Linked DNA regions of Homo sapiens. The protein of the gene in region 2 purifies or fractionates together with the protein of the main gene of each other region. This does not show direct contact. Each region holds a gene or a part of one and is shown on either strand. Other genes may lie near its edges.

Region 1 (5,235 bases), on a different chromosome or scaffold from region 2:
AGTGGAGACCCAGTGGGTGAGCTGGGAAGGGTGCTCCAGGCAGAGGGAACAGCATGTGCAGAGGCCTGCAGGTGGAACCAAGCCCTGGGTGACCAGCCCTCCTGTGCCCCTAGGAGTTTGACCCTGAGGAATTTTACCACCTGCTGGAGGCGGCTGAGGGCCATGCGCGGGAGGGCCAAGGCATTAAGACTGACCTTCCACAGTACATCATTGGGCAGCTGGGCCTGGCCAAGGACCCCCTGGAGGGTAAGCCGGGATGGGAAGAGGAAACCAAGGCTGGGAAAGGCCGGATGGAGGCCAGGCACGGTGGCTCACACCTTTAATACCAGCACTTTGGGAAGCTAAGGCGGGCAGATCACTTGAGGCCAGGAGTTCGAGACCAGCCTGGCCAACATGGTGGAAACCCCCCCCCTACTAAAAATACAAAAATTAGCTAAGTGTGGTGGCGCATGCCTGTAATCCCAGCTACTCAGGAGGCTGAGGCACAAGAATTGCTTGAACTCAGGAGATGGAGGTTGCAGTGAGCTGAGATCGCGCCACTGCACTCCAACCTGGGCGACAGAGCGAGACCCTGTCTCAAAAAAACAAAAAAAGAAAGGGCAGATGAAGCCAGGATTCAAACCCAGGCCCATCCGATTCCAGAACCACCGCACTGTTCTTTGTCTCTCTGTGGCCTTGCTCTTAGGTCACCTGTGGGAATTATGCTGAGACCCTCTGATCTTTTGGGGCCCAGGGGCCTCAGTGTCCTCAAATGCCACGTTAAGATGGTCAGGAAGCCTGGGGACCAGTGTTAGCAGTGGCCTTCCCTTTGTCCTGCAAATTCACAAATGACTTTACCAATTTCTGTGGCCTTTACTGTGGCCCAGAAAGTGAACTTGGAGTCAAACAGGACAACCCGTAGGTAAGAAGACGGTCAAAAACTCCCACAGCCGGCCGGGTGCGGTGGCTCACGCCTGTAATCCCAGCACTTTTGGGAGGCCGAGGTGGGTGGATCACAAGGTCAGGAGTTCAAGACCAGCCAGGACAACATGGTGAAACCCCATCTCTACTAAAGATACAAAAATTAGCCGGGTGTGGTGGCGTGTGCCTGTAATCCCAGCTACTCGGGAGGCTGAGGCAGGAGAATCATTTGAACCCTGGAGGCGGAGGTTGCAGTGAGCCGAGATCACACCACTTCATTCCAGCCTGGGCAACAGGGCAAGACTCTGTCTCAAAAAAAAAAACAAACAACTCCCACAGCCAGCCAGGTGCAGTGGCTCACGCCTGTAATCCCATAATCCCAGCACTTTGTGAGACTGAGGCGGGTGGATCACTTGAGGTCAGGAATTCAAGACTAGCCTGGCCAATATGCAGAAACTCCATCTCTACTAAAAACAAATATTAGCCGGGTGTGGTGGCATGTGCCTGTAGATCCCAGCTACTTGGGAGGCTGAGGCAGGAGAATCGCTTGAACTCAGGAGGCAGAGGTTGCAGTGAGCCGAGATCACGCCACTGTGCTCTAGCCTGGGTGAAAGAGTGAGCCTACATTTCAAAAAAAAAAAGATGTAGCTGGGTGTAGTAGTGCGCGCCTGTAGTCCCAGCTACTCAGGAGGCTAAGGTGGGAAGATCGCTTGAGCTTGGCAGGTTGAGACTGCAGTGAGCTATGATCACACCACTGTCCTCCAGCCTGGGTGACAAAGCCAGACCCTGTCTCAAAAAGAGAAAAAAAAAAATTTCCACAAATAGCCAGGATAAGAGGAACTGAAAGCTGGAGCATTGAACTTGGACCTAGCCTGGTCCAGCAGTAGCCAGGGGGAGGCTCTGGGAGGAGGCAGTGTTCAAACTGAGGCCTGGAGGGCAGGAGGTGACCAGGTTGCAGATCCAAAGGAAAGAGTGAAACAGGCAGCATAGGCATAGACCCTAAGGTTGGACCATACCTGGAGTGGGACTGACCTGCCACTGTCCCCATTGAAAGCTGGGGAGGCCCGGCATGGTAGCTCACACTTGTAATCCCAGCACTGTGGGAGGCCAAGGCAGGAGGATCACTTGAAGCCAGGAGTTTGAGACCAGCTTGGGCAACATACTGAGATCTCGTCTCTATTAAAAAAACAATTAGCCAGGCATGATCGCACATGCCTATAGTCCTAGCTACTTGCGGGGCTGAAGTGGGAAGACTGCTTGAGCCCAGGGGTTTGAGGCTGCAGTGAGCTATGGTCGCACAACTGCACTCCAGCCTGGGTGACATAGCAAGACCCCATCTCTACAAAAAGTAATTTTTTTTTTTCTTTTTTGAGACAGAGTCTCGCTCTCTCGCCCAGGCTGGAGTGCAGTGGCACGATCTTGGCTCACTGCAAGCTCCGCCTCCTGGGTTCACGCCATTCTCCTGCCTCAGCCTCCCGAGTAGCTGGGACTACAGGCGCCCGCCACCACGCCCGGCTAATTTTTTGTATTTTTAGTAGAGGCGGGGTTTCACTGTGTTAGCCAGGATGGTCTCGATCTCCTGACCTCATGATCCGCCCGCCTCTGCCTCCCAAAGTGCTGGGATTACAGGCGTGAGCCACCGCGCCTGGCCTACAAAAAGTATTTTTAAAAATTAGCCAGGCGTGGCGGTGAATGCCTGTAGTCCCACCTACTTGAGAGGCTGAGGTGGGAGGATTGCTTGAGTTTAGGAGACTGAAGCTGCAGTGAGCCATGATGGCACCACTGCACTCCAGCCTGGGTGACAGAGCAAGAGCCTGTCTCTGAAATAATCATACTTGGCCGGGTGCGGTGGCTCACGCCTGTAATCCCAGCACTTTGGGAGGCCAAGGCGGGCAGATCACCTGAGGTCAGGAGTTTGAGACGAGCCTGGCCAACATGGTGAAACCCTGTCTCTACTAAAAATACAAAAATTAGGCTGGGCGTAGTGGCTTATACCTGTAATCCCAGCACTTTGGGAGGCCGAGGCAGGCGGATTACCTGAGGTCAGGAGTTCAAGACCAGCCTGGCCAATGTGGTGAAACCCCATCTCTACTAAAAATACAAAAGTTAGCCAGGTGTGGTGGCAGGCGCCTGTAATCCCAGCCACTCGGGAGGCTGAGGCAGGAGAATCTCTTCAACTCAGGTGGTGGAGGTTGCAGTGAGCCAAGATCTCGCCACTGCACTCCAGCCTGGGCGACAGAGTGAGACTGCGTCTCAAAAAATAAAAATACAAATACAAAAATTAGCTGGGCATGGTGGCACACGCCTGTAATCCCGTCTACTTGGGAGGCTGAGACAGGAGAAGCACTTGAACCCAAGAGGTGGAGGTTGCAGTGAGCTGAGATCACACCACTGCACTCCAGCCTGGGTGACAGAGCGAGACTCCATGTCAAATAAATAAATTAAATAATCATACTAATAAAAAATAAAGCTGAGGAAACTGAGGCTCCAGGCAGATAAGGCTGAGCAGGGAATCAAACCCAGGTGTACCTAAGGCCAGATCACATGTGGTCTGTGGCTGGACCATGTTTGCCAGGCATTCGCTAGGGGCTGCCCCTCTGCCAAGGCCTGGGGCAAGAACATATTGGACCCTCCACCTGGGCTGCACCCTGAGCTGAGGAAGATGTTAGGAGCTGACACCCAGGGGGCCTGTGTCTCATCCCGTCTTCACAGGCTCAAGGCTCAGAGCCTAAGTTTGATCATGACTGAGCACTTCAGAGCCAGGGCAGCCCACTGGCCCTTCTAGAAGGTTCCTAAGTCATTGCTTCATCCAGCCTCCCGGATGTGGCTTCATGACAGTGTCATGAGAGCTGGTCAGGGGAGGCACTGCATCCCCAGCCTGGGGTGAGAACTCTAGAGGCCTCAGGAAATTGCTGGGTGATGCAGGGTGAGGCAGGGAGGCTCCAGCTGAGCCTCCTCCCTCATCTTGCAGAGATGGTGCCACTGAGTCACCTCGAAGAAGAACAGCCCCCAGCACCTGAGTCCCCAGAGGTGAGTAGCAGAGGCTGGGGGACCCCCGCTCATCTTGTTCTTTCCAGAGTGGACCAGGCACCCGCAGAAAGGGCTGGGTTTGCCGAGGTCTTGCATGTAGCTTAATTAGCATCGGTGACTTTGGAGGCAAGGTGACGGCACGTGGGACTGCCCTGCCTTGGAAGTCGGGTGGGGGCAGTGCTGGAGGGGCACTGGACAGGTGAGTTTTGCAGGACGTGTAAGAATTTCCCAGGAGGAGGGCACAGCTGTGAGCAAAAAAGTACAGAAAGTCAGAAGCTGAGTTGGAGAAGTTTGGACAGGGGAGGAGGTAGCATCGGGCACCAGGACCAGTGGTTTGGGCTTGGGGGCAGGAGAAGCCTTCCCAGCTCTGCAGCGGGGCAGGACCCTAAGCCCTTCCCATCCCCTAGAGCCGCGCCCTGGTCGGCCAGTCACGGAGGAAGCCATGCGAAAGCGACTTTGAGACCATCAAACTCATTAGCAACGGAGCCTATGGGTGAGTCCCTGAGTCCTGCATAGACCCATTTCACAGATGCCTGAGGGGATGGTTGAGGCCCAGGCAGCTCCTGCATCCCCCTCCTACCCCAGCAGGGCTCACACATTCATCCTTGAATGGGCAGAGAAGGCACCTGAGGACTGGAGGGGGAAGTGGAGACACGCCATAGCGAGGTTACAGCCTCATGTGTGCTCTGTCCACGAGCCAGGCCTTTACCTGCCCCAGGTGTAGGGCGTTCTAGGGGCTTGGGGGCTGATCAAGGAAATAGATGCCCACCCAGTGGGAGTAGCACGCAGTGAGCTTTATTTAGGTGCTGCTTTGAATGGCAGGCTTGCATACAAGGGAAGTCCCTCATAGCATAAGCCTTTTGGAGGCTGAGGTTCCAGGAGTCACCATCAAGAGGGAGAGGCCGGCAAGGGAACTCCCCGGGCAGAGGGGGATCAGAGAGGGGGCTTACATGTCTAGGTGATGTTGTTCAACAGCATGGGCACTCAATCTCTGGGTCAGAGACTCCCTGCAGGGTGGTAGCAGCTTAGGGTCTTGAAATCCACAAAGTTCATCTTATCCATGGCTCAGAGATGGTGCAGTTTCACGAGTCTGCAAAGCAGACAGGCTCTCAGTGGCTAAAATTTTGCTTACTTGGTCTGTGTGTAAAACAAACGGATGTGTAAAACTTTGAGTTTGGTGCTAGCGGTCTTTTAAAAGAGCTAGACCAGGTGCGGAGGCACTTTGGGAGGCCAAGGTAGGAGGATCGCTTGAGGCCAGGAGTTCGAGACCAGCCTGGGCAACATGGCAAAACTCCATCAATACTA
Region 2 (5,235 bases):
ATTTCTAATCACATGTATTACCTGATATTGAGGAGACCTGTGACCTTTGCACAGTCTTTTTAAGCGGCTGCCTAAACTGTGCCAAGCCACGTACCACATTCCGTACCTTCGTCCATAAGAAAATACCACTGCGGGTACTGCTAGGCCACGGGCTCTCCAAGACTACCTAAAGGTAAAATAAGGGTAAAAATAATGTTCATTAGCAATATCTGATTTTAAAAATACATACATATATGTGTGTGTGTATGTTTATATATATATATACACAAATATAAAAAGTTATACTGGCCAAGAGGTATATTAAAAAATGCTAAACATTACTAAACATCAGAGAAATGCAAATTAAGACTACAATGAGATATCTTATCACCTCATACTTGTTAGAATATTGTCAAAAAAAACAAAAGATGTTGATTAAGGATGTGGACAAAAGAACCCCTACACAGTCTTGGTGGAAATGCAAATTAGTACAGCCATTAAAAAGATTCCTCACAAACAGTATAGAGTTTCCTCAAAAAATTAAAACTAGAGCTACCATATCATCCAGCAATCCTATTACTGGGTATAGATATGCAAAAGAAATGAAATCAGTATATTGAAGAGAGATCTGTACTCCCATGTTTATTGCAGCATTATTCACAATAACCAACATATGAAATCAACCTAAGTGTTTATCAATGTATGAATGGATGAAGAAAATGTGGTATATATACACAACGAGATACTATTCAGCCTGAAATAAAAAAGGAAACCCAGTAATTTGTGACAATATGAATGAACCCAGAGGACATTATGGTAAGTGAAATAAGCCAGGCACAGAAAGACAAATACCGCAAGATCTCACATATATATGAGATCCAGGAAAGTGAAACCCATAAAAGCAGAGACTAGAAGTATGGTTACCAGGGGCTTTGGGAGGTAAGGGGAAAGGGGACACTGGAAGATGTTGGTCAAAGGATACAAAACTTCAGTTCAGTAGGAGAAATAAATTCAAGAAATCTATTGAACAACATGGGGACTACAGTTAATAACAATGTATTGTATTTTGAAAATTTCTAAGAGATTAGAAGTGTTCTCACCACAAAACAATGAAGGCATATGTTAATTATTTAATAGCTCGATTGAGCCATTCCACAATATACATATCTCAAAACATCATATTGTACATGATAAATATATATACTTTTTGTCAATTTTTAATAATTATAAAAATTATTAAAAAATTATATCCCAAAACTTCCTTTAATAGGAGTTTCATGAATAACTAAAGGTATACAAAATAATCATTCTTAATAAACACCACATCTTGCCTAATGTCGATCCTACTTACCTTATTATAATAACCATAAGTAATAGCATTAGGCTTTATCCTAGCAGTTTTCATTTCAAATAAGACTCTCACTGCTAAAACAGGATGACCCCAAAGTCCACAAAGCTGCATCACTACTCGATAGCACACCTAACAAAAAAAAAAAATCAGTGTCAGTAATTAGTATACTAATCTATCTGTGAATTGTAGAGATTTTACTGAATTCTTTCCATGAAGTTATTAAGCAGTATTTTCTCCTTTGTTCTGCTTTGAGCATCTTAGCAAATTATTTTTAAGACCTATTCAGGCTGGGCACAGTGGCTCACGCCTCACAGCACTTAGGGAGGCTGAGACGGGTGGATCACCTGAGGTCAGGAGTTCGAGACCAACCTGGCCAACATGGTGAAACCCCATCTCTACTAACAGTACAAAAATTAGATGGGCATGGTGGTGCATACCTGTAATCCCAGCTACTTGGGAAGCTGAGGCACGAGAATCGCTTGAAGCCAGGAGGTAGAGGTTGTAATGAGCCCAGATCACGCCACTGCACTCCAGCCTGGGCAACAGAGTGAGACTCTGTCTCAAAAAAAAAAGAAAAAAAAAAAAAAACCCAAAAACAAACCTATTCATTAATGCAAGTATCATCATTATTAACCATTTCATATAAGACATATGTGTCCATGTTCCATTTGTTTGAGTAACTAAATCTATACAAAGAGAAAGACTATTACTCCTCATAATTTGAGAGGTAATTCATTTCTAAAATCAAGGATAGAGGCCGGGAGCAGTAGCTCATGCCTGTAATCCCAGAATTTTGGGAGGCCCAGGCAGGCAGATCACCTGAGGTCAGGAGTTCGAGATCAGCCTGGCCAACACAGTGAAACTCCATCTCTACAAAAAAATATATACAAAAATTAGCCAGGCGTGGTGGCACGCACTTGTAGTCCCAGCTACTTTGGGAGAGTGAGGCAGTAGAATTGCTGGAACCCGGGAGTCGGAGATTGTAGTGAGCCAAGACTGCGCCACTGCATGCTAGCCTGGAGGAAAAGAGTAAAACTGTCTCTAAATAAAAAATAAATAAATAAATATAAATAAAATCAAGTATAATTGAAGTCTCTCTCTCCCCAATCACTATGCTTTCCATTCAATGCCAAAGGAATTAAAGACAGTATCTCCAAAATGCCTACAGAACAAATAGGATTTGTCTTTAAAAGAATGAGAAGACAGTTAAATATACTGTAACATTATTAGCAAAGACTTTTCATTTTTAATTCTAATCTAGTTCAAAACATCATTTATAGTTATCTTAACACCAAAAATAATTTTTAAAGGGAAAAACAGCATTGGAAAAAGCTAAATAAGTGCCTCAGTTTCCTCAGCCATTAGCTGGATAATATCAGTATCTACTTCTTAGGATGGTTTCTAAGGCTTGAGAGAGAAAATGCATGAAAATGTCTAGTATATCATTCACTGAGTGCTTACTATGAACTAGGCACTTTAAGTATATTAACTGATTTAACTAACCTTCAAACTAACCTTATGATGAAGGTGCTAACTATTATTATCTACCTCAGTGGTTCTCCAGGAGCAATTTCGCTCTCCGGGAACATTTTTGATTGTCATGATCTGTGCAGGGAAAGAGAGGCATACAGTTGGTAGAGGCCAGGGATGCTACTAAACATCCTACACAATGTACAAGACAGGCCCCTAAAATAAACAATTGTGTGGGCCAAAATATCAATAGTGCCAAAGTTGAGAAGTTCAAAGCTACATTTTCTAATAGATAATCCAAAACACAAATAGGTTCCATAGGCCAGGTGCAGTGGCTCATATTTATAATCTTGGCACTTTGGGAGGCCAAGTAGAAGGATGGCTTGACACCATGAGTTTGAGACCAGCCCAGGTAACATATCGAGACCCCATCTCTACAAAAAATAAAACTAAAAAAATTAGACGTGGTGGTGTGCACCTGTAGTCCCAGCTACTCAGGAGGCTGAGGCAGGAAAATCACTTGAGCCCTTAAGTTCTAGGCTACAGTGAGCTGTGACAGTGCCACTGCACTCCAGCTTGGGCACGAGTATATATATATATTTAAATATAAATAAAAAATATATTTTTAAATAGATTATATAACTCACCTTAGGACACAGGTCCTAAGTGGAGAGCCACTTACTAAAAGCCTATTCCCTATCTGCTCCCCAATAAAGTTATATTAAGAATAAAATGAAGCCAGCCACAGTGGCTCATGCCTGTAATCCCTGCACTTTGGGAGGCCAAGGTGGGGGTTCAAGAGCCAGGAGTTCAAGACCAGCCTGGGAAACAAAGTGAGACTCCATCCCTTAAAAAAAAAAAAAAAAAAAATCAAAAACAGAAAAACCATATGCCAGGTGCCATGATCACACAACCGCACTCCAGCCTGGGCGAGAGAGGAGTGAGACTCCATCTCTTTAAAAATAAACAAACATGGCCGGATGTGATGGCTCATGCCTGTAATCCCAGCACTGAAAGCTGAGGCAGGCAGATCACTTGAGGCCAGGAGTTTGAGACCAGCCTGGCCAACACGGTGAGACCCCATCTCTATTAAAAATACAAAAAAAAAAAAAAAAAAATTAGCCAGGTATGGTAACATGTGCCTGTAATTCCAGCTACTCGGGAGGCACAAGAACTGTCTGAACCCGGGAGGCAGAGGTTGCAGGGAGCCAAGGACGCACTGCTGAACTCCAGCCTGGGTGACAGAGTGAGACTCTGTCACAAAAACAAATCAATAATTAAAATAAAAAATAAACAAGTAATATGCACCAGCTCCATGAAACAGTAATAGTTTTACCTTTCCTGCTTAATGAAAATGCTTGAGCACACTTTAAAGCAACTTACACCCAAATTTTATTAGAAGTACAAAAATAAAATTTACCTTAGAAACAATGTCAATTTGTTATACTTGCCTCATCTAAGGGATCCACATCTGTTTTCCTCATCTTAATAAGTACATCATATGCCTGCTGAAGTGCTCTGACTTTAGGATGAGAAACTCTAACATAGGCCGGAAGACAAATAAACCATAAACTGTAACAATGACTAAACAGACACTTGGCCCACTGTGGTGGATTTGTATAACATCTCTTCGCCAATTTATGAGCTGTTTTTATTTCCTAGAAAGAGAATAAAATATTATGATATTTACTAAAATTCATTAGGGTGAGGGGAGAAGTGAGAAGGAAAAGGGAGAGGAGAATTTAAGTAAAACTTGACCCCCTAAAATCAAGCACTTCAAAGTTGACTTTTGTGAGTGGCTTCCTGCTTATCAGTGTTAATGGTTCCCCTGAACATTCATTTACAGTAATACTTCATACTATACCAAATCTATTTGTTAGCAAGCATGTGTCTCTTAACAGAGTAGAAATTAAGAGCAAAGATCATTCATCTTTTTGTAATAGAATGGCTCATGTCTTTTACAAAGAAGGAACTCATTTTTGATGGGTGAAAAAGTGATATTCCTCTCACTCTTCTCTTCACTAAAGTTTAAGATGCTCTAGGCTATCTCCTGCCAAGATTTCCACTCTGTCTTCCCAAGCTACAGTCTATGTTAACTCCCTCACTGACAGACTCCTTAAAAAAGACCTGTTTCTGGCCAGGTGCAGTGGCTTATGCCTGTAATCCTAGCACTTTGGGAGGCCAAGGCAGATGGATCACGAGGTCAGGAGATCAAGACCAGCCTGGCCAACATGGTGAAACCCAGTCTCTACTAAAAATACAAAAATTAGCCGCGCATGGTGGCATGTGCCTGTGGTCCCAGCTACTCGGGAGTTTGAGGCAGGAGAATTGCTTGAACCAGGGAGTGGGAAGTTGCAGTGAGCTGAGATTGTGCCACTGCACTCCAGCCTGGCGACAGAGCGATACTCCATCTCAAAAAAAAAAAAAAGGACCTA
Region 3 (5,235 bases), about 110 Mb from region 2:
TCACAACAGCAGATTGATGACAGAAACACAGGTTTATGACTTCAGTATGAGACTGTGGAAGATCAAGTGCAGAGAAATCATTTTACAGGTCCAAATGCTCCCTCGAAGCAGATGCTTCTCTGCAAAATCCGTGAGGTCTGTCACCTTCCCTAAAGTGTCTGTTTCCATATCAAAATATTTGCAGAAATATTGTGTCATGCACAAGACTCCAGAAGAGTTGTAGCATACCCTAGGCCTGATTTACTTAGAGCTAATGATCATGAGCCTGATGGAAGATGAGATAGTACTTCTCCCACCTCTGATTTTTTTTTTTTTTTTTTTTTTTTTTTGAGACAGAGTCTCACTCTGTTGCACAGGCTGGGGTGTAGTCGTGTGATCTCTGCACACTGCAACCTCCACCTCCCGGGTTCAAGTGATTCTCCTGCCTCAGCTTCCCGAGTAGCTGGGATTACAGGCACCCGCCACCAAGCCCAGCTAATTTTTTTCTATTTTTAGTAGAGAACGGGGTTTCACCATTGGCCAGGCTGGTCTCGAACTCCTGGCCTCAAGTGATCTGCCCACCTCAGCCTCCCAAAGTGCTGAGATTAAAGACATGAGCCGCCAGGCCCGGCCCCATCTCTGATTTTTATAGCAATTGGAATACTTAGTTTTATCCACCATTCCTGCAGTGTCCTGAGTGTGTCTTTGTGAGCTTTGCACCAGTACCAAGCAACGGAAGCCCAGCCCTGTGTCCGGGAGCTTGGGAGAAATGTTGTTGCCATCAGAAGCTCTTGAGGAGTCAGTTTAGACTCTAGTAATGCATGCTGTTGTTCTAGAATTCAGGAATTTTACATAAAATGAGAGCTTAGATGGAAATTGAAGGGAGGAAATAAGAGCCACAATCTGATGTCAAATAAACAATCATGAACAAAGCCTCCATCGAGCTTTTTGCGCTTGTAGAAATAGGAACGTCTCCCATTTATTGAACACCAGCTACATGCAGTACATCTAATGTCCATTATCTTGTTTAATCTTCCTGACCGCCCTCCAGAATGTAGACATTGTCCCCATTTTATAGAAGAGGAGATGGAGGCCCAAGGTCACAGAGCACACAAGGGTGGAGCCTCTACTTGAACCTGGCCCGAGAAGCTCCAGAGCCGCCCTCTTCCCATCAAGATGTCACTGAGCTAAGCCATGGGTGGTCCCTAATTCCACAGGCTTTGAGATGAATCTCAGAGGAGTTGTCGGGCTCTTCAAATCAGGTTCTTCTCGTGATTGAGTGATGGAGGCTGTGGCTTTATTGACCATGAAAACTCCCTATATTTTTATGCCTTAAGCTGTAAAATGCGTTGAAAATGAAACACTCTATAGTGCATAAAATTGTGCCAGTTTTAAGCCACAGCATATTAACCAGCTAATGGCAGAGCAAAGGGCGTTTTTATCTTTTGATTATTACATTAATCTTCCATTAACATTATCTATGTGATTATCACAAAGCACTGAAGATAATAAATTTGGGAAATAGTTGGCTTGTTAAGGATCATTTTAAAATGCTTTTGTCAAGTTATATGTGCCAAAAATACACTGAAAACACTAGGTTGGCTGAGTGTGCAAACAATATAATCCAAAGATTTCTTGTATTAAGAATGATAAAACCTCTTATTTCCATACACTGTATTGTCCCAAATCATCAACCTGGCCCTGCGGTCCTCATGATTTATTGCTCTCAGCTGGTAACTTGGCGAGGCAGCGGGCAGAGCGTGTCAGGCCTTCTGTACTCACGCACCAGCCTTTAACGCCTGCTGCTCCAACCAGCAGAGCAGAAAGTTGGGAGGGACAGTGTTGAAGCCTCGGCCATCTGAGGCGTTGCCATCTCGCGCTGCCTCCCCCGGGAGCCCTCTGGTTCCTTCTCGGAGTCAGCAGAAGCTCCTCTCCCTCTGGCACAGGACACATGGCCCTCGGAGTAGAATCAGCAGAGGCAGTGGCTGGCCTCTCTTGTCAGAAATATTCAGCCTTCTAGTCAAAACTTTTAGATACTTGCAGGTGAAGAGAAATAGCGTCTGTTCACCAAAAGCCCCAGCCAGAGGAGCAGAGGAGGTGAGAGGCTGCGGAGCAGGAAGGGGTGTTTGCCAAGCGCCTGACACCTTCTAGCTTTGTGACCTTGACTAAATGACATTATTGTCATTGGCCTTGACTTCCTCACCTGTGCATGGGGATGACAGTGGCATCTGTCTCAAGATTATTGTGAAGATTCCATGAGCGCTGAAAGGCACTCCGAGCAGTGCCAGTTGCCACCACTGATTTCACACTGCTGCTGCCGCCCATGCCCAGGCACAGGCTGTCCTCAGCACTGGGGCGTGTGCATCCCACTGTAGCACCCCTCCCTGGCTCCCACCACCTCATTTCACTAAGCCAGCCAAGCTCTCGCAGTTCCAGGGACACTCCCTTGTGGCGTGCCCCTGCTGTGCCTTGATGCATGCTGCGTCTCTCCTCCCCGTTGCGCACTCAAAAACTCCTGTGTATCCCTCAAAAGCCCGCTCACTCTTTTCCTCTGGAAGCCTTCCCTCCTCCACACCTCCCTGATACTCAGCCCCATTCCTTGATGCTCCTCTTTGCCTGCTGCAGTGCTGGTTCTGCTGCTGGACACCCACTCACCAGGCAGCAAGCTCCCCAGGGCCAGGACCAAGTCTCAGCGCTGTAGCGCTGGGGAAGCGCCTGGCGGTGCAGCTGCTACACAGAGTGGAAGATGCACATGCGACTCCGGGCAGACTCCCAGGGCTTCGTGGAAGCAGCAGCGTGCAGAAGGCCTGAGAGGAGCCCAGGAGGCAGCCCCGCCCTTCACACAGGGCTCTTTCAGCCCCCTCACAGCTCTCACCCTGACTTCCACGTGGCCTAGGCCACTTTGGCCTCCCTCTCTGAGCCTCTTTCCTTTTTGTCAAGTGAGCCCTGCCTGGCTGGGCACTCATGAGCCCTGAAGGAAGCACTGTGGTGGGAAGCTCTGCGCCTGGCTGGTGGGAGGCTGGATGGAGAGCCTGTCTTGGTTTGCTTTTCATCCCTGTGTTCTCGGCCTTCACACAGGGAAAGGCAGGCTCAGAGAGGTTATGTGCTTGTCCAGGTCACACAGCAGGTGGGAGGCATAGCCAGGCAGCCCAGGGCACAGCCTTCCGGGAGTGGCTCACGCCAGGAGGGAGCATGGGCTCCGGAACCTGAAGAGCTCGCCGCTCACTGACTGGGAAGCCTGGACTGGCCACTTGGCTTCTCCAAGCCTCTGTTTTCCCATCGTAGAGCAGCGGCTCTGGGCCCAGCCGCTGCCAGGTTGCTGTGATGACTGGACTCCTTCCACACGACAGCACCTGGCCCTGAGGCACCCGGCCCAGGTCAGGGCCTTCCCTGCCACCCCCTCCGATGCCCTGGGTGGGTAGGGAGCGGCTGGCAAGGTGACCGGGCTGTGTGCTCTTGTTTCTAGGTTAACTACATCCTGGAATCGCGAGCTAGCACTGCCCGGGCTGACTACTTTGCTCAAAAACAAAGAAAACTGAACAGACGTACGAGCTTCAGCTTCCAGAAGGAGAAGAAATCCGGGCAGCAGTGACACTGGCCTCCAGCCTCAATCTGTTCCGTAGCTCAGAGCCTGCCTGCCAGGGCCAAGTGCCCTAGAGTCCACCCGGTGTCCTGAAGTCCTCGGGGGGAGGCCAGCCCCTGGCTCACTGGCACAGGGCAGGTGGGCTCTCGGGGAAGGTGTCGGGGGCCCCCTAGGAGGGAGCGCTGGGGACATTGCCATGGGACGGAAGTCTGCTTGGCAGTGGCTTTGATAAGCGATGCTTGGGGGTCAGACCACCCCCTAGAGGAGCCACGTGCCGCCCAGCCACCTTCAATGCCTGCCACCCTGCCCGAGGATGTACAGAGCCGTGCCCACACATTTCCTTGCAACTTGATCAAATTTCTTAAAGCAAACAACAAAAATGTACATTTCTGTTTTTCCTTTTAATAAACAGGTGTACTCTTTATCATGGTTGGTATGATGGACCATTCTTTGGGGCGGAGGATTGATTATGTTACTCTCTTTAAAATCTGTTCCCATATTGAACAGGCAGATTGGAAAAGCTATGGTTCGATTTCTCAGAAGAAATGTTTAGGTCTTAGTCAATAGTTTTAACTATGCCATTTGTTTAAATGAGTGCATTTGCTTCGAGGGTAGTGTCTTACTAAAAGTTAGGAACAGAGACCTAGTGGTGTGTCCAAGGCCGTGTCACTTTCCCCTTCAGCACACCCCAGCTTCTGACCTCAGAGCCCAGGAGCTGCGTGGACAGTGTGGGGTGCCAGGAGGAGGGGCGGTGGCTGGTCCTCAGGCACGCTGCACTCCCAGCCAGACATGGTCTTTCCGTTTCTTAAGTAGCAAGTGTAGGTTTCAGCTGGCAGTTCCACCTGCATGTTCTCTGCTTCGCTGCCTTGGAAGGGGCCACATTCCCCATTCCTCTTCTCCTTACAGCGCCTGCCTCCTTTTTCAAGCAGGCGGAAAGCTGCTGTTTCTCACGTTTCAGGGAGAGGGGTGAGCGGAGGGAGACCTGTGTCCGTGCCGTCCGGCTCCCTGGGTGGGAACAGGCAAGGGATCAGATGCCCCTGACACCACGCCTCTGGCCACACCAGATGCCTCTGCAGTCCTCGACAGCCTCTTCAGTGTCCCTCCTGCGGTGATGTCCTTACTGTCCCCAGCCAGGGCCGGGGACCGGTGTTTCACTGAGGACCTGCATTAGAAACATTTTTTAAATTGTTGTACAGGAAGAGATGTGTCTAAAACAGCATCTTAAAGCTGAGTGTATTTCTTTGCACAAGGGGTCATGCTGATGAATTCTTCTTTCATTCTGATCTTTGTTCAGCCAACAGGAGCGTCCTTTTCTAATGTCTTCCATTCCTACCCCCCACCCAAAAACAAAAGAAATATTTGTAGCTTGCTATCTGTATTTGAATTTTTAGCAATTTTATATTTAGATACTTTGAAAAATGTAAATGACTAATTTGGTCATTAAATCTTGTGACATATTCGATATTAAAATGATATTAAAATAAAAGTCATATAAATACACACTTTTGCATATTGTGTTGAGTTTCTGAAGTCTGGAGTATGTGATGCCGAAAACCATGACTCTGCCATGAGCCTCCTGGGTGGTGGCATTTGCCAGCAGTTGACGAGGAAGCAACATCTCTGAAATGCACCGGGGCCTCTTTGGTGCTAAGCACGACAGGCTGGCCCTCTTC
Region 4 (5,235 bases), on a different chromosome or scaffold from region 2:
ATACCACAGCTTGGGTACCCAGTCGAGCACCCGAAGCAGCTCTTCCTTGTTGGCATTGATGTCGCTGTCTGACTCTACCAGCTTCCTCCTCAGGTAACGAACCAGGAAGCCATTGGCTGGCTCCACGTTGTTGGAGAAGGTCAACATCCTGCCACCAAGGATGGGGAAAGTGGGGTCAGAGTGGCAATGGGGACATTGTCAGGGTTCAGCCCCTGCCAGTCTGTCCCTCCTTCTGCCTGCTTCTCACTAATGCCTACTTGGTTTCTTTTCAAGTAATAGTGGGGACATCGGAACTCAGAGCAGCAGCCCTGGGGTGGTAGAGCTGATTCTCAAATTGGTAGCCCTCTTCGGATAACCTTCTGACATCACTGACCCAGATCAGCGTGTGCGGGCAGAGAATCCTAATTCTGCTTAGAGCAACCTACCTGGCTCTCTCTTAGCTTAGCAGGCCTTTTCTCTCCTCAAGTGTCCTCCTCCACCTTGTAACTGACATGACAAATACATCTACTTTCTATTTCCAGCCCAAAAAGCTCTGGATACTTCTCTTTCCTTCTCCTATCTACTGCCTCCTGGCCAGAGTCCAGGATTGAAGACTCTTGGGTAGGGTCAGAAGGTTCATCCAGAGCTAGAGGTCTTACCTGAAGCTCAAGTGCAAGCCATGGTTGGGTGTCATTTTTACAGGCTGATTGGTGGTACCTATAATATAGGGACTGTAGGGAGAAAGGGGAAAAAGATTCACTTAGACTTGCCTTCACACTTGCTTTCTGCCACATGCACACAACTCATAGGTTGTCCTGGACTGGGTTCTCCCTCCTCCCACTTCGATGAATTTTGTCTTGATCCCAGCTTACTTACCATTTATGATACTTGCAGGTGAGGGCCCCATTGACCAACTCACTGATGGAGCCTGCTTCACTCAGGTCATCCAATAGAATCACCAGGGGCACATCCCCAATTCCTGTTTCCCGGTCTATCTGGTTGGCTAGGTTGGAAAGATACAGTTGCAGATCCTGGAATAAAAGAAGGCTGTGGGTCAGCACTTGGGAATAAGCAGCTGGATCGGCCTTGGAAATCAGGATTTTGAAGAAGTCTTACTAGATCTAGATTCCCCTGGGGCCTTTAGTTCCTTGCAAATTTGATTACAGCAGATTACCACAGAGTGATAAGCAGTGGTTGCAAAGGCTCTAAAGCAACCCTCTTAAGCAGCAGCCCCTAAATTCCCCAAAGTTGGGGAACATATGCTATTTCCTAGATGGATTTTCACTGGTACCATGGACTACTACTAATGGGCATGCCTCCCCGAGCTGGGAAGAGCAAAGATCTGAACCAACTCCATTGTATTAGGGTACTCAAGAGACATCATCAGGTTTTGGCAGGGGAGGGTGTAATATGTACCATTTAATTCTGAGTGCTTCTTCCCAGATAGCCCAAGGTCAGAGAGTAATACTGAAAAGAAAAGTAGAAGGAAGAGAACAAAAGAGAAGGGATGGGATTGACAGGGTTGGCAGACAGTGGGGTAGAAATGAGGAGAATGCAGTTTCATCAATGACCAACTGAGGAGGAAGGTGCACAAAGCAAGGAAAAGTGTGGAGAGGAAAGCCTTTCTCCATAAAGGCAAGGGAAAGTGTGGAGAAACAAGTTAAAGGCAAGAGGCTGGAAAGAAATCGTGGGGAGGGAAAGGAGAAGACTGGAAAAGGGGATAGATAGAGAGGGAAGGAAATGAACACAGAAGAGAAGAAAGATGAAGGCAGAGGTGAGGAAAAGGGAACAATGAGGCAGGAAGGGGCCGAGGAAGGGTCTTAGGGAAGGCTGAGGCATGAACAAAGGCTGGCAGGGGTGTCGGGGGGCAGCCACCTTGCAAGACTGCTGGTGCATGTTGAAGGTGCTGACGATGCCCTCTGTGACCTCACGGCCAGAGCGCTCCACCAGGTACTCGGCCAAGCGATTGGTCAGGTAGGTCTTGCCCGTGCCGCTGGGGCCCGAGAGGACGAGGCGCCGGTGCTTCAGCAGGAGGCTTATGTAGTGCTGCATCATCGGCTTGGGGATCAGCGTCTCGAACACCAGGCTGTCGACGCATTTCTCCTTCAGACCTGAACCCCCACCCCAGAAAGCATGAGTATTGACCAGGGTCTTGAGGATAGCAAGGGATCCTAAAGGGCTTTTCTTTCTTTATCTAGGAGCCCCCTGAAGAAACTCAGAGCCACTTGCCCCATGGTTCCATAAGAGTCCCTTAACCCCTAGTTTTGAAAACTTAGATCTTCTTTTTAGGGACATGCTGTGAGCTGGGGGTGAGGAGTGAAGCAAGAAGCCAAGGCTTAGCAAAAGTGTCCCTGGGAGCCAAAGTTAGGACTGGGTCTTACTCATCTTTTTATATCTCACATTACTTAAGCATCTTCATATTATACCTTCTCAGTGAGTTCTTGGTGAATGAATGCATGATGGATTATTTGATGATCCTGTCCCTGCCTTCATGCCACACCACCTCACCCCAAGAGACAAAGACTGACCTTTGAGGGAGACTGATATGTTATTGACACCTCGACGGCAAGGAGGCATCTCGGGGGGCTCTGCATCCAACACTCGTTTCACGTGGCTGATGCTGTAGCCATGGATGGACTCAGTGCTTAGTCCCAGGGTAGAGGCTGGGTCCATTTTAGAAATATAGTCCTGACAGAAAAGACAGGCAGAAGAAGAAGAAAATATACAAACACAGGTGTAAAAGCCACAACAAAGAATGTCTATCAGAGGAAACAGAAATAGATGGAGAAAGTGCAGAGCATATGCTTTTCCTAGGTAGCATTTCTCCATAAAGCCTCAAAGGTCCCCAGGATCCCAGTGCCTGGACGGTTTAATATCCTGTGAGAAGCCATGCATGGTGGCACATGCTTGTAATCCCAGCTACTCAGGAGGCTGCGACAGGAGAATTACTTAAGCCCAAGAGTTCAAGGCTGCAGTGAGCTGTGATCACGCCACTGCCCTCCAGCCTGGGTGGCAAGAGTGAGACCCTGTCTCTAAAAAAGTATATATATTCCACGAGAGGATGAACAACCTTTTTGAGTACAGGTATCCCTTTACCTTGAACACTTGGAAAACAGCTTCATCCAGCATCTTCCAGTCAACTTTTCCACTGACCTTGCTACAGCCCAGGAAGAATTCCTGCTGCTTCAAGTCCTGTAAGGCCAAGGAAGGAAAAGCTCTTGAGCTTCACTGCAGATGACTCCATGAACCGGGGTCCTAAAGGCCTTAGGAGTTGAGTTCTTTGGTTTTGGAGGTACCCAGGGTCCAGATTTTCTTGGATAAATGTAACAGTATTTGTTCATTCCCACTGTGGCTCTCCCTGAAGTTCCTTACCCCTTTGATGATGTGCTGCGGGGGCATCCTCACCACCACCCGGAGGGTCACTTCCTCCTTTGGACCACAAGTACTGATGCCATCCATGGGTGACAGGTCTGTGGGGATTGAAAAGAACCAACTGGTTTTAGGAGTACCCGCAGCCTTTCCTAAACTTTCCCATCATTATCCTTTCCAAAATAACTCTGTTTGCCACAGAGAAGGAATGGAGGTCCCAAACTCAAAAGTAGTTAAGGTTGAAGGACCATTACAACTCAGTGTCTTAGGACACTGGCATCTGCTTGGCTTCGGCATTGTTACCGCCCTGACCAAAGCAAGTGGAATGGTGTAACAGTGAAATAAGCCCTTTTCTTCCCTTCACCCTTATAGATTCTTCTCCCACACAGGTACCTGTGTCTGCAAGACTGGGGCCGAAGGAATGGGTGAGTGCCAGGCCTAGGGAGCGGCGTGGGGAAGATAATGCAGATGATCCAGGGACCTGCCCTGGAGTGGAGCCTGATGAGGGGCCTGGGGCTACCTTCAGTCGGTCATTCTCTGCTTTCAGCAGGTCCACCTCCAACTGTGGCAAGAACAGACAGGGTAGGGTGGCAGACTGGACAGACAGCAAGCCTTGGTCTTCCCTTTCCTGCAGCTGTCCGCCCAGACACTGACCTGCATGTTGTGCATGGTCTCCCGAAGCTGATCCAGTTGGTGGGCAGAGTTGAGGGCCTCCAAGCGGATGTCTGTAAGCTTCATTTCCTTCTCCCATAGCTCAGAGCGCAGCTCCGATACCTCCTTCTTCTCTGGCTCCTCCTCCTCATTTGCATGGAACAGCCTAGTGTGGGGGGCTGGGTGAGCAGGGCCCCTGTAAGATAGCAAGAGTCAAGCCAGGCTACATGAAGAAGCACTAGAGTTACTAGAGAATATTGAGAGGCATGGTTGGTGGTCTTGGCTTCTCCTGCCCATTGATATTCAATCAGCATGAGAAGAAAGGTCCATCTGTTGGTCTCATATGCCCAGGGAGAGGTCAGTAATAAGTACTGCTTGTCTAAGGTCTAATGGCCTCCTGTCAACTCTAGCCCACAGCTTACACTGGTAACAGGCTGGGTGGCAGGGAGCCAAAGAGCACTTACTCGGTGACATCAGTGCCCACGGAGGACGAGGTGGAGGACTTGATGGAGGGTGAAGCAGTCTCTGTAGAACCATGCTGTAGTTTGGGGGATGAGGGGGCTGAAGAGTCGGGTGTAGCAATCTCCTCTATATCCGAGTATGAGGAAGCTGACTTGGGCCCCTTTTTTATACTGAACGCTTTGTTGAAGGAACTTCGAAGCTAGAAAAAAGCAGATCCAGGTAGAGGGACATTAGGACTCCACTACTGGGATGGGGGAGGACTGGATTGAGACTTCTGAGACAGAGAGAGCTGGAGGCGGGGGATTTACTTTAATTAAGCCACCCTCTATAACACTTCACTTGATTCATAGAATACGGACAGAAGAGTTGCCTAGAAATTAGGACCGTGGAGGCAGAGGTTGCAGTGAGCTGAGATCGAGCCACTGCACTCCAGCCTGGCAACAGAGTGAGACTCCATCTCAAAAGAAAGAAAGAAAGAAAGGAAATTAGGACCAAGAGAAAGAACAGAATCTTCTAGCTTGCTGATGTTGTAGGCTATGGGAACTTCCTGGGTGTTCTCTTGCTCATAGGGGGAATTGTGCCCCTGATGGGGACAGAGAGAAGGTCCCAGAGGTCACATGGTATACAGCTCAGTGATCCAATCCCACCTTCTGCAGCAGAACAATAACCGCTCAGTCTAGAACCTGGCTCACTGTGGGCCTCAGAGGCCACCTCATGATGCCTCTGACTAGGGCTCATCAGCCCAGAATCTGTTCATCTAGTCATCTGTCAACC

Evidence for each region. Proteins that work in one complex are often made in the same cells at the same time.
Region 1: the proteins of DENND4C (region 2) and MAST3 purify together in Homo sapiens (affinity purification with mass spectrometry, with the first as the bait; one large-scale study listed by BioGRID). This does not show direct contact.
Region 3: the proteins of DENND4C (region 2) and MAPKAP1 purify together in Homo sapiens (affinity purification with mass spectrometry, with the first as the bait; one large-scale study listed by BioGRID). This does not show direct contact.
Region 4: the proteins of DENND4C (region 2) and NAV1 purify together in Homo sapiens (affinity purification with mass spectrometry, with the first as the bait; one large-scale study listed by BioGRID). This does not show direct contact.

What each region holds. Positions count from the first base shown.
Region 1 is NC_000019.10:18,124,529-18,129,763, forward strand, and holds part of MAST3 (microtubule-associated serine/threonine-protein kinase 3), read left to right. Parts: intron 1-113; coding exon 114-246; intron 247-3,871; coding exon 3,872-3,930; intron 3,931-4,337; coding exon 4,338-4,423; intron 4,424-5,235.
Region 2 is NC_000009.12:19,331,201-19,336,435, reverse strand, and holds part of DENND4C (DENN domain-containing protein 4C), read right to left. Parts: intron 4,459-5,235; coding exon 4,252-4,458; intron 1,886-4,251; exon of another isoform or gene 1,768-1,885; intron 1,460-1,767; coding exon 1,331-1,459; intron 167-1,330; coding exon 22-166; intron 1-21. UniProt on the Homo sapiens protein: Guanine nucleotide exchange factor (GEF) activating RAB10. Promotes the exchange of GDP to GTP, converting inactive GDP-bound RAB10 into its active GTP-bound form.
Region 3 is NC_000009.12:125,437,223-125,442,457, reverse strand, and holds the end of MAPKAP1 (target of rapamycin complex 2 subunit MAPKAP1), read left to right. Parts: intron 1-3,445; coding exon 3,446-3,571; 3' UTR 3,572-5,064; downstream 5,065-5,235. UniProt on the Homo sapiens protein: Component of the mechanistic target of rapamycin complex 2 (mTORC2), which transduces signals from growth factors to pathways involved in proliferation, cytoskeletal organization, lipogenesis and anabolic output.
Region 4 is NC_000001.11:201,807,378-201,812,612, reverse strand, and holds part of NAV1 (neuron navigator 1), read right to left. Parts: intron 4,661-5,235; coding exon 4,464-4,660; intron 4,196-4,463; coding exon 4,003-4,195; exon of another isoform or gene 3,911-4,002; coding exon 3,742-3,910; intron 3,450-3,741; coding exon 3,352-3,449; intron 3,172-3,351; coding exon 3,076-3,171; intron 2,668-3,075; coding exon 2,508-2,667; intron 2,091-2,507; coding exon 1,855-2,090; intron 1,011-1,854; coding exon 856-1,010; intron 711-855; coding exon 639-710; intron 149-638; coding exon 1-148. UniProt on the Homo sapiens protein: May be involved in neuronal migration.